Linked DNA regions of Homo sapiens. The protein of the gene in region 4 purifies or fractionates together with the protein of the main gene of each other region. This does not show direct contact. Each region holds a gene or a part of one and is shown on either strand. Other genes may lie near its edges.

Evidence for each region.
Region 1: the proteins of APMAP (region 4) and ATF1 purify together in Homo sapiens (co-immunoprecipitation; one large-scale study listed by IntAct). This does not show direct contact.
Region 2: the proteins of APMAP (region 4) and NCAPD3 purify together in Homo sapiens (co-immunoprecipitation; one large-scale study listed by IntAct). This does not show direct contact.
Region 3: the proteins of APMAP (region 4) and TSPAN15 purify together in Homo sapiens (co-immunoprecipitation; one large-scale study listed by IntAct). This does not show direct contact.

The regions. Positions count from the first base shown.
Region 1 is NC_000012.12:50,797,742-50,802,665, forward strand, and holds part of ATF1 (cyclic AMP-dependent transcription factor ATF-1), read left to right. Parts: intron 1-4,924.
Region 2 is NC_000011.10:134,217,451-134,222,374, reverse strand, and holds part of NCAPD3 (condensin-2 complex subunit D3), read left to right. Parts: intron 1-1,648; coding exon 1,649-1,803; intron 1,804-1,883; exon of another isoform or gene 1,884-1,984; intron 1,985-4,924.
Region 3 is NC_000010.11:69,457,965-69,461,464, reverse strand, and holds part of TSPAN15 (tetraspanin-15), read right to left. Parts: intron 1-3,500. UniProt on the Homo sapiens protein: Part of TspanC8 subgroup, composed of 6 members that interact with the transmembrane metalloprotease ADAM10.
Region 4 is NC_000020.11:24,975,083-24,980,006, forward strand, and holds part of APMAP (adipocyte plasma membrane-associated protein), read right to left. Parts: intron 3,801-4,924; coding exon 3,685-3,800; intron 1-3,684. UniProt on the Homo sapiens protein: Exhibits strong arylesterase activity with beta-naphthyl acetate and phenyl acetate. May play a role in adipocyte differentiation.

The DNA.
Region 1 (4,924 bases), on a different chromosome or scaffold from region 4:
ATTACAGGCATGAGCCACTGTACTCAGGCTCCAATATTTAAATTCAAAGAGAAAGTAACTTTTGACCTGGAATTCTGTGCCTACTGAACAGTCTTTCAAAAATGACGGTGAAATAATAATCATTTTCAAACTGATTTAAGAAACTACTTAAGGAGGCTGGGTACAGTGGCTCACGCCTGTAATCCCAGCACTTTGGGAGGCCGAGGCGGGTGGATCACTTGAGGTCAGGAGTTCGAAACGAGCCTGGCCAACATGGAGAAACCCTATCTCTACTAAAAATAAAAAAATTAGGTAGGCATGGTGGCACATGCGTGTAGTCCCAGCTTGAACCCAGGGGGCGGAGGCTGCAGTGAGCTGAGATCGTGCCACTGCACTCCAGCCTGGGTGACAGAGTGAGACTCCATCTCTAAAAAAAAAGAAAAAAGAAACTACTTAAGTGTATACTTCAGGAAGAAGAAAATGAAAGGAATATAAATGTGAGAAAGTATGGTGAACAAAGACAATTCATTTCAGTTAGCATTGGCTTTTTAGAACAATAGTAATAATGATTAATTTGGGTAGTTTCATGGTTGTTGTTTTTTTTTTGAGATGGAGTCTCGCTCTGTCATCCAGGCTGGAGTGCAGTGGAGTAATCTCGGCTCACTGCAAGCTCCGCCTCCTGGGTTCATGCCATTCTCCTGCCTCAGTCTTCCGAGTAGCTGGGACTACAGGCGCCCGCCACCACACCTGGCTAATTTTTTGTATTTTTTAGTAGAGACGGGGTTTCACTGTGTTAGCCATGATGGTCTCAATCTCCTGACCTCGTGATCTGCCCACCTTGGCCTCCCAAAGTGCTGGGATTACAGGCGTGAGTCACCATGCCCAGCCTGAACCTGAGATTTCTTTATTAAGTAGGGGTCTCTCAGGAAGGCTATAACATCTGAAAAGAAACTTCTCAAAGTTAAGCTTTCTGGATTGCCACAGATTAGTATAAATCAAATACGAATTCACTCAAAAATCATCAAACGTGCAAGGACATAAACCACGTAAGTGAGAATTGGCAGAAACAATACAGTCAACTCAATAAATGCTGGGAAAAAAAGTATTTGATTAAATCCAGCACCTCATACATTTCTACCAAAAATGAATAAAAATGGGCTTCCCTAGCATATGTAGACTTTTAGAACTTAACTATGTATAGGACAGATCACCATTGCCCAAATTCTAGACTGGCCACTACCTGGTGCACATGTGTAATAGATATGAATAGCATTGCAAAGACTTTGGAAACTGAACTGACATTGGAACCACAACCCACAGAAGGCTGATCAGAACTTGTGGCCTGGACACAACCAGATTGATACCTTCTAAAACAAGAATATAGTCTAGGTCTGTGGCTCATGCCTGTAATCCCAGCACTTTGGGAGGCTGAGGTGGGAGGACTACTTGAGTCCAGGAATTTAAGACCAATCTGTGTAACATAAGGAGATCCTGTCTCTACAAAAAATACAAAAATTAGCTAGGTATGGTGGTGTGTACCTGTAGTCCCAGTTACTCAGGAGGCTGAGGGCAGAGGATCACTTGAGCCCAGGAGGTTGATGCTTCAGTGAGCCATGATTGTGCCATGCACTCCAACCTGAGTGACAGAACGAGTCCCTGTCCCAAATACACACATGCACATGCAACAAGAATATAAAACATTTTTTATTAAACAAGACCCAGAGTCTGATAGCATAATATTCAAAGAGTCCAAAATTACTTGGTATCAAAGAACAAGGAAAAATCTCAACTTGCACGGGAAAAGACTGTTGACAGAAGCCAACTCCTAGATGATACAAATGTTGGAATTATATGACAAGGACTTTAAAGAAGCTATTATTAAACTGTTCCAACAAGTAAGTGAATTTTCTTGAAATGAAAGGTATAAACTCTCGGCCAAAAATAGAGCATATAAAGAGAATAAAATAGAGATTTCAGAGCTAAGAAACACAGTAACAGAGATAAAACCTCATTGGATGGGTTCAATAGTAGAATGGAAATGAGAGAAAAAACGATCAACTTTGAAGATTATTCAATGGATATTATCCAATCTGAACATAGAAAAGAGATTGGAAAATTATCTAATTCTCAGCGACCTGTGCGACAATAATTAAAGATCTAAGATTTATGTCATTAGAGTCTCAGAAAGAGAGGAAAAAAGTATAGCGCAGAAAAAATACTTGAAAAAATAATGGCTGAAAAATTACCAAATTTGGTGAAAGACGTAAACCTACAGGTTCAAAAACCTCAGCAAACTCTAAACAGGATAAACACAAATAAATCATTGCCCAGACTTACCATAATCAAACTGCTGAAAGCTAAAGTTAAAGAAATCTTGTGAGTAGCCAGAGAATAATGGCACATTACTTACAAGAGAACATTGTGAATGACTACAGAGTGCTCATCAGAAACTATGGAGGTGAGAAGATAATGGAATAGCATTTTTAAAGTGCTAAAAGAAAAAAGAATTATCTCCTGGGTCTTGGCACCCAAAATTCTATGTCTACTGAAAACATCCTTCAGACTTGGAGGTCAAATAAATATTCTCATCAAGGGAAACTAAGGGAAATAATTGCCAGCAGACCTGCTGTAAAACAACTGCTAAGAAAATTCTTAAGACGAAAGAAAGTTAAGGAATGAAGAAACAGCAACAGAAATATCTGGGCAAATATAATGGACAGTTCCTCTCCTATTGAATTCTTTAAAATAGGGGTCCCCAAACCCCAGGCCGTGGATTGGTACCTGTCTGTGGCCTATTAGGAACCAGGCTGCACAGCAGGAGGTGAGCAGCGGGTGAGCGAGCCTTAGCACCCAAGCTCTGCCTCCTGTCAAATCAGTGGCATATTAGATTCTCATAGGAATGTGAACCGTGTTGTGACCATGCGAGGGATCTAGGTTGCATGCTCTTCATGAGAATCTAATATCTGATGATCTGAGATGGAACAGTTTCATCCTGAAACCATCCCCTGACTTCCCTATCCATGGAAAAATTGTCTTCCACGAAACTGGTCCCTGGTGCCAAAAGGGTTGGGAACTGCTGCTTTAAAATATATTTGATGGCTGGGCGCGGTGGCTCATGCCTGTAATCCCAGCACTTTGGGAGGCTGAGGCAGGTAGATCACCTGAGGTCAGGAGTTTGAGACCAGCCTGACCAACATAGCAAAACCCCGTCTCTATTACAAAGATAAAAACTTAGCTGGGCATGGTGGCAGGCGCCTGTAATCCCAGCTACTCGGGAGGCTGAGGCAGGAGAATCACTTGAACCTGGGAGGTTGCAGTGAGCCGAGATCATGCCACTGCACTCCAGCCTGGGCGACAGAGCGAGACTCTGTTTCAATCAATCCATCAATCAATTTGATGGCTGAAAACAAATTATGAAATTCTGATGGGGTTTTTAATGTGTGCAGAGGTAATATATAAGACATCTACAACATAAAGAGGGAAATATAAACAGTTCTAATATGGTGGTAAGGTTTCTACATTCCACCTGAAGTGGTAAAATAGTGATTCTATGTAGACTATAAAAAGCTAGGTATCTATATACCCCTAGAGCAACTACTAAAAAAAAACTACACAAAAAGATTTAGTCAAATATACAGTTGCTTAAAAATTAAATTTTGAAAAGTCTTCAAATAATCCAAAATAATGCAGGTGCAGGAACACAGAAGAATTTTAAAAACAGAATAAACAGAAAGCAAATAATAAAGTGGAAGATCAGCCAATACTGAAGATGGCCTACACTCACCAATTAAAAGGCAATTGTAAAACTAGACCAATATCCTTCATGAATATAGACACAAAAAATCCTCGACAACATATTAGCAAACCAAATCCAACAACATGTAAAAGGTAGTATATGCCATGACCAAACAGGATTTATCCCTGAAATGCAAAATTGGTTTAATAATTGAAAATCAATTAATGTAATACATCATATTAATAGAATCAAAACAAAAAACATATGATCATCGCAAGACACAGAAAAAGCATTTGACAAAAATCCAGTTACCATTTCATGATAAAACTGCTCAACAAATACATAGAAGGCTGCTTCCTCAACCTAATAAAAAGGGTCTACGAAAAACCCACAACTAACATCCTAATAAGAAAATAATGTGGATATCCCCTCTCACCACTTCTAAACATTGCACTCAGGGAATTAGTCAATAAATTAAATAAAAGGCATCCTGATTGGAAAGGACTAAGTAAAACACTTTGTACATGACAGTATCTTATATATACAAAATCCTAAAGAATTATTAAAATAGAACTAATCAACAAGTTCCAGCAAGGTTGTAGGATATAAGATCAATATAACAAAAATCAACTGTATTTCCATATACTAGCAATGACTAATCCAAAAATGAAACTTAAAAACAATTCTATTTACAATAACAAAGTATAAAAGGTTTAAAATTAAATTTATAAATTTAAATTATACTTAGATATGAATTTAACAAAAGAAACAGAACACATATACTGGAGGCCAGGCACAGTGGCTCATGCCTGTAATCCCAACACTTTGGGAGGCCGAGGCAGGCGATCACCTGAGGTCAGGAGTTTGAGACCTGCCCGGCCAACATGGTGAAACCCCATCTCTTCTAAAAATACAAAAATTAGCCAGGCCTGGTGGCACGCGCCTGTAGTTCCAGCTCCTCAGGATGCTGAGGCGGGATAATCGCTTGAACCTGGGAGGCAGAGGTTGCAGTGAGCTGAGATTGTGCCATTGCACTCCAGCCTGGGTGACAAGAGCAAAACTCCATCTCAAAAAGAATACATATACTGGAAACTATAAAACCTTGTTGAAAGAAATTTTAAAAGATCTAAGTAAGGCTGGGAGCGGTGGCTCACATCTGTAATTCCAGCACTTTGGGAGGTCAAGGTGGGGCAGATCACGAGGTCAGGA
Region 2 (4,924 bases), on a different chromosome or scaffold from region 4:
TGTGGACAAGAACCCTCTAGTATTCATCTTTATATCCCTAGAAGTATAAGTGGCTTCCCTAGTATTTTCTCAAAGTGTTTGTTGAGTGAATAGGTGATGTATTTCTTCCTCTTCTTCCATCCTAAGTGAAGTAGCAGAGCAGAAGTTACCTGCATTCGACAGCTGAGAAAATAGGTAGTGAGAGATTTGAATAGTGTAAAGATACTGAGGGAAAAAGACTAACTCAGTGTCTCCTATACTCTCACTCAACAATCAACACTGAAGACTTCTGTGACCAAATGGTAGATAACAGGGCCAGTTACTGCCATCCAAATTAGATTTGATGGTATTTACAGTAGGGAACTGTCATAAGCAAAACCAAAAGAAGGAGTGAGATAACTTTTGCTGTGGTCTATAATGACCTTTAAAACATTACTGGAAATTTGGAAAGAAACAATTGTATTTTTCAGATCTTCTTTCAGGCAGCATATTCCATGTCTTTGGAAGGAATGCTGTGCATAGCCACTTAGGGTACAGAGACCCCCTCCTTCAGGGTCAAGTTCAAGTGACAAAAGATGATGACCAGATTGTATTCTAAGGATGGAACTAGTTGAGTGTAAGGCCTTTCATTTTCATTTGCCGAGTGCAGTGTAATGCTCCCATCTCTGTTTTTTCCTTATTTATACCTTGCCCAACTTCTCTAAATCAGTGGTGAACAAATACTTTTAATATTAATTTGAAGGAACACCTGATTAATAATTTGAGATGTCCACATTTCCATCTAGTCCTAATTTTAGTTTGGGAAAGTGACAATGACAACACTGAAGAAATATAGTGTATTAGAAAAGAATGGGAAGGGGGGATGGAGGGATAGGGGAGGGATACCATTAGGAGAAATACCTAATGTAGATGACGGGTTGATGGGTACAGCAAACCACCATGGTACGTGTATACCTATGTAACAAACCTGCATGTTGTGCACATGTACCCAAAAACTTTAAGTTAAAAAAAAAAGTTTATCCAAAAAAAAAAGAAAAAGAAAAGAATGGGAAGATTTAGAGTTAAGAGAGATTGGTGGAATCCAGCCAGCGTGCTGTCTTAATACCCCTCCTCTCAATGTACATTCTTTCAATCAGTGTGTTTTAAAGTCACCAAGTATTCCTGGGAGTCTGAATCTGGGTTGCCTCTTCTATTTTAAACTTCCTGGAGAAATTATATATGTTTTTTAAATGCTACATGATTGTCCAAGGGCCCAATAAAGTGCTCTATATTTTATTTCCACTTATTAACTTGGTTATGATATTTTCACAAAGGAACCTCGTGGGCAATCTGATTAACCTCTGTTTCTTCTCTAGATTGAACATGTGGGAAAGCCTGATCACTGAATGTTTTGAAGTGTCCTTTCCCAAAACTCTTGTATCTGAAAAGTATTTCCTCCTTTATATTTTTAGAAGATGATTAGCTTAATAGTCAGTGTCAGTTGTGATTTAAGATTCTCTTAACCTTTTCTGGTTTTCTTTTATTATGCTACACCTATGTTATTAAAACAAGTTAAATGTGAATCGTGACTAGTAAACTTTTCTCCTCTTGAACACACCTGGAATCTAAAGGTGACTAGTTTTTTTACTTGTTACAGAGTACTTACACATTTCATTGCATTTTCCCCTAGAATGGGTTGACACAGTGTGGGAACTGGATTTCACAGAGACTGAGCCTTTGGATCCCAGCATAGAAGCAGAGATCATAGAGACTGGATTGGCTGCATTCACAAAACTCTATGAAAGCCTTTTACCCTTTGCTACTGGAGAACATGGATCTATGGAGGTAAAAATATAAAAACAAACTAGCCAAAGTTTGGTGTTAGAAGTAGAAGATGAAAGTCATTATTATAATCTGAAGCTTAGCTTTCTTGGTGTACAGTTCACAGGGAGTACAATATGAGTAACATAAAGAATGTGGTTAATTTATTGGAATATCCTAAGAGCTTTCCTCCAAAAGCTTCAAGGTACTTGTCTGATTTTTTTTTTTTAAGACACGACTGTTTTTTACAATAGCAAATTAAAGGAAAAGTATAAGGCCGGGTGTGGTGTCTTACGTCTGTAATCCCAGCACTTTGAGAGGCTGAGGCTGGCCAGTTGCTTGAGCTCAGGAGTTTGAGACTAGCCTGGGCAACATGGCAAAACCCCATCTCAGAAGGAAAAAAAAAAAGGAAAAATATAAAGGCAAAAACAAGAAAACTAGACCAAGGAAAATGCAAATAACAATTCAGACATGCCTTAACCTTAACTTTAAGAAAATCTGCGACCAGGCATGGTGGCTCATGCCTGTAATCCCAGTACTTTGGGAGGCCGAGGTGGGTGGATCACGAAGTCAGGAGTTCAAGACCAGCCTGACCAAGATGGTGAAACCCCATCTCTACTAAAAATACAAAAATTAGCCGGTTGTGGTGGCGGGCTTCTGTAATCCCAGCTACTCGAGAGGCTGGGGCAGATAATTGCTTGAACCCAGGAGGCGGAGGTTACAGTGAGCCGAGATCACGCCACTGCACTCCAGCCTGGGCGACAGAGCAAGACTCTGTCTCACAAAAAAAGAAAATCTGATATTATTAAACTGAGGAATGACTAGTTGAATTAACAGGTTTGTCCAAACAGTTCCTGTAAATATTGAGTTCTATCCAATGCATAGAAATATAAATTATTATTAATATTTAGGTTGTTAGTTTTCAAAAAAAACCAAAGGGTTGGGAAACAGAACAAAAGCTAATTGGATATTAACATCTCTGAAACATTTAAATGAACAAAAAAAAATTCACTTCCAAGTTTCACATCACAAAATTAAATCATCTAATTAAACATTCCTTCAGCATAACACTAAGCACTGCCTTAAGTACCTGAGTTGACAGAGTGGGGATTACGATACAATCTCCCTAGGTTGAGGTCCTCCCCAGGGACCTCAGGGAGGAAGAGTGGACATTTGAACACTAGCCAAAGTAGGTCTAGCAGCCACATGCAGTTGCAGGGGGTGGAGAGTTCAGTGCCACTGTGCATTTGGGCGCCTGGAAATATTCTACGAACCACACTGTGAAAAATGCTCCAAGAGAGGTGCGGATTTGTTGCATAGGGTGTGAAAAAGGGAGCATGGTAGGGTTGGGAAAGTTCCAGAAAGAAAGTGGCCAGCAGCGAATCTTCACAGATGACTAGCAGAAGCTTGGGTTGTAAGGCAGTCCTAGTGAAGGAGCCACCCAATGGGAACACGCAGGAAGTGTCAAGAGGCATACAGAAAAAGTGTGGTGGAACGGGATGGTAAGGTAGAGTAAGGGTAGGTCACGGGTAGCTTTACGTGAGGTTCAGCAGTGGAGTTTGAACATGTTTGGTAGAGTGTGTATGAGGTTTTGTTCTAAGCGTCCTGCATGTATTAACTCATTTAATCCTCAAGCAGCCTGTGTGAAAGAGGTTACAGTGGGCAATAGATAGGTAACATGAATAGATCTGTTTTAAGCAGACGTTCTTGACAGTAGGTGGACTGAAGTGGGAAAAATTGTGTGCAGGGAGAGCCCTTGGGAGACTGTATTGGTGATCCAGGTGTTATGAGTAATAATGGCATGATCCGGAGTTACAATTTTGGGAACTGGAAAGGAAGACTAAAAACTAGGGACATTTTTGGAATTAGAATTAATAGGGCCTTGTGAACTAGGAAGCCCTTTTGAGATATCTTAAAAACATGGTGTGAAGTGCTAAACTGACTGGGCATAGGGAATTAGAAAAAGAAAGAAGTCAGTGATCCCCAGGGTTTCAAAACTAGGAAGATGATGATATTGTTAACCAAGGTGGGGAATAAGGGAAAAAGAGCAAGGTCAAATGGAGAAACAGTTCTGTTTAGACTTCTGAACTTGAGATTCTGTCAGGAGATCCTTGGGAAGTTTAACAGGTAGTAGAAATGTGAGACCAGGAGAGAGAAGAGAGTTCTTTAAATTGAGGTATGGGTTGAAGCACAGTGATGCATGAGATCACCGAGGGTGAGAAGCAGCCAGGACAGAAATGGAGAGCTGATTGGACGGGGTCTGCAGAGGAGCAGTCACATGTAGGGAGTGCAGGGTCACTGACGCCCAGACTAGACAGCAGCCATGGGATCACATGGGGCCAAGGTGACCCCATATGCAGAGCCCTGGTGAGCAGATGGTTTAGGGTGATCGATCACCCTCGTGTGTGAAGTGGAGGTGCAGGTGGCATTAGGAATGAGGATGTGACACTGTAAAGTTAGGAGATGATTTCTTCCCCCCCCCCCCTTTTTTTTTTTTGAGACCAGGGTCTTGCTCTGTCACCCAGGCTGGAATGCAGTGGCACAGTCAAAGCTTACTGCAGCCTCAACTTATTGGGCTCACATGAGCCTCCCACCTCACCCTCCTGAGTAGCTGGGACTACAGGTGTGTGCCACCACGCCCAGCTAATTTTTTATTTTTTGTGGAGACAAGGTCTTGCTTTGTTGCCCTGGCTGTTCTCAAACTCCTGGGCTCAAGCAGTCCTCCTGCCCTGGCCTCTCAAAGTGCTGGGATTACAGGCATGAGCCATTGTGCCCAGTGGAGATGATTTCTCCCGTAAGTTTTTTAGTTAAGGAAAGGAGAGTGCTCTGCTCACTTGAATTTTGTGGGCCTTTTTTTGTTACGATACTCAAGGATAAACCATATTTAGTTCCTGCTATGTTTAGGTTATTAAAATAACCCATTTCTTCTTCATGTGTTTAGTAGGAGAAGACATGGAATGAAGATAGAATTAATACAATTGTGGTTTCTTTTCTAGGGTTTATCTCCTTTACCTGGGCCATTTCCGAGATCTCTTTCATTTCCTGCTCCCATTGCCTGCAATCTGCAGAACATTTAAATAAAGGGCTCTGATTTCCTCAGTTAGTAATTATTGGTAAAGGAATTTGAGTTCCTTTTAATATAAAT
Region 3 (3,500 bases), on a different chromosome or scaffold from region 4:
GGTTCCTGCTCTCCCAGGCAGGAAGTGGGAGGGCTCTGAAGAGGGAAAAACAAGCCCATCTGGGCCAAGGCTGTTTTCCTTCCACCCTCCAGTGAAATACTTGCTTCCCTGCAGGCCCAGATGCAAATGTCTTGGCGAGAAAGTCCCTTTTGGAAAAAATTAAAACCCAACAGTAACCTTTCCCACAGTGAAACAGTTCTTGTCCCAGGAACACATGCAAATGATGGTTCTCACACAAGTTACTTCCCCGCTCAGGGCCTTAGTCTCCTCCTCTATAAAATGGGACAAGGCACATGGGGTCATTCTGAGAATGCAAAGAGATGAAGCAAACTGTGGTGAGACACGTGGCAGACGGCGTCTCCTCCCAGCATCTGCATGAACGGTTACCCAGCCAGATGCCCACTCAGCGCTCTGTGGGCACTGCCTCATCTAAGCCTCACCCCTGTGGGCAGCACAACAGTTATCCCCTCCCAGCAGACAAGAAAACCAAGGCACAGAGAGTTGTCCATGACTTGTCACATGGACCTTCTCCTCACCCGCCAACCAAGAAGTGCTCATCCTCCTCAGCTCTGCTTGGCCTCCAGACCTGGTCTTCCCAGAGGACATTTCTGACCTCAACACTCAGGCCCAAAAAACATTCTGTAGCCCGCCCTCCCTCTCCTAAGACTCATCTCCACTCCTCTCTGCGAGGCCTCCCTGCCCAGTGAAGCCCTCAGAGTCCTCCCAAAGACTCCTCTGTAAAACAGGACAAGACCCCCTGTCCAGCCCAGCTCAAGGGTCACTCTGAGAATCCAAAGAGATGAAGCAAAATGTGGTGGTCAGGCCACCACAGTCAGGCAGCCTAGCTCAGACTGGCCCTTGATGGAACCAGCTCCTCCAGCCAGCTGGTCTGACCCCTTGGGCGTGCATGTGGTCTTTTCCAGGGACTGGGCCCTTCCCACCCCTTAGTTCCTGGGCTAACATGGCACATCGCCAGAGGCAGAGATGGCTGCCAGCTCCTTCACAGGCCAACCCTCTAGCTGGGGAAGGTGACATCGTAAGTCTACAGTGTCTCTACGGTGTCTCTTCCTCACCTCCACCAGCCCAGGGGCCTAGCTTGGAGCTGAACAACTCATGCTGACCGAGGGCTGGGACCCCTCAGAGCCTAGCAGGACACTTCTCAGACGGCCTGCCTGGCCCCGCGTGCCTGTTGTGGCCTAGTGCTTCTGACAGTGTGCCATGGTAGCCCAGAAACTAAGGGGTGGGAGGGGCCCAGCCTCTGGAAAAGACCACATGCACACCCTAGGGGTCAGACCAGCTGGCTGGAGGAGTTGGTTCCATAGCCATCTGTTCTAGGCAGGCTGAGTACCCCCAGGGGCAAAGGAGCCTCCTCTGACAAGACGGATTCCAGAGGTTCTCATCTCATCTCATCTCATCTCATCTCATCTCATCTCATCTCATCTCATCTCCCCAACTACCCCTGAGCAATGCAAGGCTCCCAGGTGACTCTCCCTCCCTCCGTGGGCAGGGAGCCCTAGAGTCTCCCTCCATTCGTGGGGGGGGGGTGCCTAGAGTCTCCCTCCCTCCGTGGGTGGGGGACCCTAGAGTAGGCCCCGTGCTTTGGCACCTCTCATCTCACAGGATCCTCCCCACTGCCCTCTGGGGTACCCACAGAGGAGGCATCTCGGAGGCTCAGAGAGCTGGTCCTTTACCCAGTGTCACACAGAATAGCCAACACCTGATCTAGGTCTCTGGATGGCAAGACCACAGGGCCTGACAATGAAACCCTGCTTCTCAGTCACTCGAACCCCAAACTCTTCACACAGCCAGGCCCCTGCCACCCTCTCCACCCACAGCGCAGCCCTTCCCGGGCTTCCTCATCTGCTGTAGCCATGCTTGCGACCTGCCTCAGGGACTTTGAACTCATGGCTCTCTCTGCCTGGGATGCTCTGGACAAGTCTTTATGGCTGGCTCCTTCTCTATTTGAGCTTCAGCTGAAATGTCAGCTCCTCATAAAGGCTTTCCCTGACCACATCATCGAAAGTGGAAACGCCCATCCCTCCCCACTTGCTCCCTAATTTTCTCCTTAGCACCTATCACAAGTGATATTTATTTACTGCTCTGTCTTCCAAGGCCTGGACTAAACCTGTCTTGTTCATAGTTGCTTCCCACACCTATCACGGTATCACAGTGCCTGGCATTCAGTAGGCATCAAATAACTATTTGTTGACTTAATGAACAAACCAACCAACCAGAGAGCACGGCTGGTTAAGACTGAATGCTCCTGCCTTCCAACAAGAAGTCAATTCAAACCCATTCACATCTAAAAGTTCTCTCTGGGAAAGGTTGTTTTGTTGTTGTTTTTTTTTTTTTTTTTTTTGTCTGTTTTGTTTTCCCCCCATCAACCTCTTCTGACCAGACTTACCCAGAAAACATCTTTCCCCTGTGTGGAGCCAGTTGGTACAGAAATTTCATTATCAGTCCCTTATCAGGTTGACCGTGAGCCCCACCCCAGGGTGGCACTGTGAGTCACCTGGGAAGAAAGGCCTCCGGGCAGGAGGGCAGGTGGTTATTCCTGCTTCTCCAGGAACCAACCCAAAGGCAGCAAGGTCCAGTCCTACGACATAAAGCAATTCCTCTATTAAAGCGGGGAACGAGACCATGTACAAAGTCTAGGTTAAGAGCGAAGGACACTTCTCAGGGCCTTAGTTTGCTCATCTATAAAATGAAGGTGTTGGAAGGTTCTCCAAACCCCTGGCAGGGCTGCAGCCCTGATTCTCTGGATTTTAAAGGCTCTGTGGCCAGACTGGGGGAGGGGAGGACCTCTCTGTGCCCGAGGCCTGAGCCCAGTCTGATGCTATGAGATCATCTCTGACAGCCCGTTAGGCACGGCTGGCCACTTCTCCAATATGAAGGCTGCCCCACTTTCAGCTTCACTATTTGAGTTTCACTATTTGGAATGCTTACCTAGAGCCAGAAAATGAACTTTGCTCGACAAATCAAACACAATAAGAAAGATAATTAAAGAAATAAAATGTCTACATATATGTACAAGATGTCCAGATGGATGTTTACCAACATATAACAGTGGCTGAATCCCAGTGGTAGAATCAAAGGGGACTTTTGCTGTTTTCGTTGTACTTTCCCAAATGGCTTGAATCTTTTAAGCTATGCGCATGTATGATTTTCACAAAAATAATAAAGCTCTTCTCGAAAGTAAAAATCTCCTGGAAACTGTCTCCAGAGAAGTGCTTTCTTTTTGGCCTGGCTTCACCTAGTGCTTCACTGGGAGGCCAGGGACGTGGCCTCTTTCAGAAAGGTTATCTTCTACCCTCACCCTGAGACCAGGGAGAAACATACATGGCGCCTGGAAAGGTCATGGGGGCCCGAGGAAGAAACTGGAGTCAGGCAGCCTGGATCTGGTCTTGGCCTGTCACTGACTTGCTGTGGGCTTTCAGGCAACTCACTTCTCTTCAGGCCTCTGATTTCTTATCGGTAAATTTAAAAGGCTGCACTAGAGG
Region 4 (4,924 bases):
ATGACAAACTAGAAGCTTTCCTGCTAAGATCAAGAACAAGGCAAAGATGCCCCTATCACCACTCCTTTTCAGTATCATACTTGAAGACCTAGCTAATGCAGTAAGACATGAAAAGGAAACAAAAGGTATACAGATTGAGAAGAAAGAAATAAAACTTTCTTTGTTTGCAAGTGACATAATTGTCTAGATAGAAAATCTGAAAGAATCAACAACAACAAAAAACCCTCCTGGAACCAAGCAATTATAGCATGGTTGCAGGATATTGCAAGATATTGACTCACCTTCCTTTATACTAACAATGAACAAATGGAATTTGGAATTGAAAACACAATACTATGTACATTAGCATCCAAAAGATTGGCATACTTAGGTATAAATATAATATAATATACACGAGGTCTATATGAGGAAAACTAGAATATTCTGATGAAAGAAATCAAAGAACTAAATAAATGGAGAGATATTCCATGTTCATGGACAGGAATACTCAATATTGTCAAGATGTCAGTTTTTCCCAACCTTAATCTATAGATTCAATGCAATCCCAATCAAAATCCCAGCAAGTTATTTTGTAGATACAGACAAATGAATCCTAAAGTTCATATGGAGAGGGCGAAGACTCAAAATATCCAATACAATATTGAAGGAAAAGAATAAAGTCAGAGGACTGAAACTACTCAACTTCAAGATTCTCTATAAAGCTACAGTAATCAAGACAATGTGGTATTAGCAAAAGAATAGAAAAATAAATCAATAGAACAGATAAAATTTTTAGCCCAGAGACAGACCCACATAAATACAATCAACTGATCTTTTGACAAAGGAGTAAAGGCAATGCATAATGGAGAAAAGACAGTGTTTTCCACAAATGGTGCTGGAACAAATTTGTTTGCATCCACATGCAAACAAATAAATCTAGACACAAACCTTATACCCTTCACAAAAATGGAATTCAAAATGGATCATAGACCTAAATATAAAATACAAAACAAATTCCTAGAACATAGGAGAAAATCTAGGTATGATGATGAATTTTTAGATATAACACCTAGGGTATGATGATGAATTTTTAGATATAAAACCAAGGTGAGATACATGAAGAAATAATTAATAAGTGAAACTTCATTAAAATTAAAAACTCTTGCTCTACAGAAGATACTGTCAAAAGAATGAGAAGCCACAGACTGGAGAAAATATTGGCAAACAACATGTCTGATAAAGAACTATTATCCAAAATACACAAACAACTCTTAAAACTCAACAATAAGAAAATGAACAACCCAATTACAAAAATGGGCAAAAGGCCTGAACAGACACATCACCAAGAAGATATACAGATGGCAGGTAGGCATATGAAGATATTCCACATCAAATATCATCAGAGAAATGCAAATTAAAACAACGAGACACCACTATACACCTATTAAAAGGGCCAAAATCCAAAACACTGACACCACCAAATGCTGGCGAGGACATGGAGCATCAGGAACTCTCACTAATTGTTAATGGGAAGGCAAATGGTACAGCCACTTTGGAAACGCTTGGTGGTTTCTTACAAAACTTAACTCTTACCATACAATCCAGCAATTATGCTTTTCGGTATTTACCCAAATGAGCTGAAAACTTAGGTCCACACAAAAACCTGCCCACAGATGTTTATACCAGCCTTATTCATAACTGCCAAAACTTAGCAGCAACCAAGATGTACTTCAGTAGGTAACTAAACTGTGGCACATCCATACAATGGAATATTACTCAGTGCTAAAAAGAAATGAGCTATCAACCCATGGAAAGACATGGAGGAATTTTAAATAAATGCATACTACTAAGTGAAAGATGCCAATCTGAAAAGGCTACATACTGTATGAGTCCAGCTACATAACATTCTGGAAAAGGCAAAACTATGGAGATGGCAAAAAGATCAGTGGTTGCCATGGGTTAAAAGAAAAGGGTGGAATGAACAGGCAGAGCAAAGAGGATTTTCAGGGCAGTGAAAACACCCTGTAAGATACCATAACAGTGGATACATGGCATTTGTCCAAACCCATAGAATGTATAAAACCAAGAGTGAACCCTACCGTAAACTACAGACTCCGAGTACTATTGACGTATTGATGTGAGTACATCACTTGTAACAAACTTACCCTTGTGGTGGGGGATGTTGATCATGTGGGAGGCTGTGCATGGCATGTGTGCAGAAAAAGTATTTGACGAAATGCAACACCCAATCGTAATAAAAACTCTTTTTCAGAAAATCTCTGTACCTTCTGCTCAATTTTGCTGTGAACCTAAAACTGCTCTTAAAAATAAAGTCTACTTAAAAACAAATAAAATAAAGCCTGCTATAGTTGGTGGTTACTCTCTCCCAGCACTCCCCAGAGCTAGTACCTCCTTCCACTGTCAGCAACCTGCCAGCCAGCCCCCAGGACAGCTTCCAAATGAGGTGGCAGAGACAGCAGTGGCAGGTCCCTGCGGCTCACACCCACCAGAGAGGACCCCACTGTGCCTGGCCAAGAAATGTCACCAGCTCATCAAAGAAAGAGAAAAAGCTGGGACCTGGTGACAAAGTACAATGAGAAGTAACCCAGTGAAAAAGAAAAAGACAGGAAAGTGCTCTCTTTGGGAGGTAAGATCATTGGTTTGCACTTCAACTGCTGTTAAGTTTCAGTTTTAAAGAGCAAGATTTGATTTTTCACCAAAAAAAGCTAAAGCTTTTAAAATTTACACAAATAAATGCCAATGTCTTTTTAAGAGAAATACAAAGTTCTATCATGATATTTACTCTTCTTGAAACAATTTTGACTTTGACAGCCAAGAAAACAAACCAACTGCAGAAATGGACCAGTCCTTGGGGCCTGTGTCAAATAACAGGGCCCAGGCAAGAGAAGCTGGTCAAACGTCACTAGAAGAGAGGCCACTGACCGGCCTTGAGAGCACAACAGAAGCACCCTGTGTGCACATATCCACAGCCACCCACTGCCTGGAGAACAGTGTGCTTCAGAATAACAAGCGGCACTTCCAAAGAAGCTGCTCAGCAAGCCCATACCAGATTAAGTTTTAAACTATCTGTGACTATCTGTGCCTTCCCAATACTAAACTTAATTCTCATTTTAACAAACAGAAAATGCCTTGTTCAAGGTTGCTAGAGATGCAAGTATTAGAACCAGACCCAATTCTAGTTCTGAGGCATGGGCAAGTGTGATGCAGATGGTTACCCTTAAGTGTACCCATCAAGGTGAGATTTCAAACAGTCAGACAAAAACAGTGGAAATATTGAGAACCATTTGTCTTCATCACAGTGAAATCTATACAAAGCAAATGGAACTAAGAAATACTGTGCTGTCAAATAGCTATTTAACTTTGATAAATGAACTAAAAATCAGTATCTGTATTTGGCCTTTTTCCTTTCACAACACTTTGAGCACAACAAAGTGTTCCATAGAGATGAATTCAAAATCACCCAGTGCTAAAATGGCATGCAAACTGGGCAGATGAGACCAGCAGAAAGAGCCACTAGGGCCTCCCATGTGATGTCTGAGGGCCAAGTCCCACGTCCGCAGCTAAGAAGGATGTGCAGGGCCCCAGTCCAGGGGCAGCGTGCCACTGCAGCTGCTCCCACAGAACCCGCCCCCTCAGACAACAGACAGCCTGGAAGGCTCCCCCCCCACCCAAGCTTAGACTTACCCCCAATATGTGCTATGGACTCCGGTCCAACAAGTTGATTTTCAAACAGCCTTTCTGCCTGTCGCAGCTTCGTATTTGGATGCAGAACACCAAGCAAGAGCGGGGGTTCTTTGAAGCTGCAAAATAATGCAATTCCAGAGATCTGTCTATAAATACACATGTGAAGAAAATGTGTACCGAGCACCTGCTCTCAGTTCTTTGATAAAGATGGCACTTTCTAACAACATCCTCAGTTGCCAGAAATACAAGGGTTAAGAAAAAACTGTTCTAGGATATCAGAAAACATCATGGTACAAAAGAAATATAAAAATATAAATGTGCTAGTGCAAGACCTTCAGCAATCTTGTCACCTGAGAGCATCCTGAGGCCTGTGCCCACCCATCCTCCAGCCTCCCCAGCTCCCCACCCCCATCCAATGCCTCAGGGCAGCTGGACCTCCTCACCCCTGTGACTCACAGCCCTACAGCCACTGGAGTCTACCTAGGGTGGTGGGGGGCAGTGCCCACGTTTCACACCTGATGACCCGGCCTCGTATTTCACAGAGAAGATGGAAGGAGCAAGGGGAGACCTTCCTGGGACTGGAGCCACCGTCCCATGGTCCAGCACAGGGCACGCCACCTCCCGCTGATATTCTCGAGGCCCACCAGGCTCTTCCTGAAGCAGGAGCCTGAGCTGGGCCCTGGAGCCCTTCTACTCACAGACACGGCTCCAGAAACTCCTGCCTCTACTCGTCCTTCCCATCCACATGCCAGTATGTCACGCCTCCCAACCCACCATCAAGTTCTGCTGAGGCCACTTTGAAAAGACACCATTGAACCCGTCTCCCCATGTCCTCCTTACAACCCTGGCTGGGGCCACCATCCTCTCGCCTCGCCCCTGCTCCCTCCCTTGACCCCTGTAGTCTATTCTCAATCCAGCAGCCATGCCGGATCATGACCTTCCTCTATTCAGAGCCCCACAATGGCCCCCTCTCACCTAGAGCCAAGTCCTGGCAGCAGCCTCTGAGCACCGCAACCTGGCCACAGCACCTTCTTGCCCCCTCTCTCCCTTGTGCCTTCTGCATCCCTCACACCAGCCCCTCCCTGCTGGGTCCTAACCACACCAGCATCTCCCTATCCAGGGCCTTCACACCAGCTCTTTGCTCCACTTGGAACAGCAACCATCCCCCACCCAGGAGGCCCACTCTGACCACCCAACTAAATATCCGATACCTCCCCCGAACCCAGGCCCCTGCCCTACT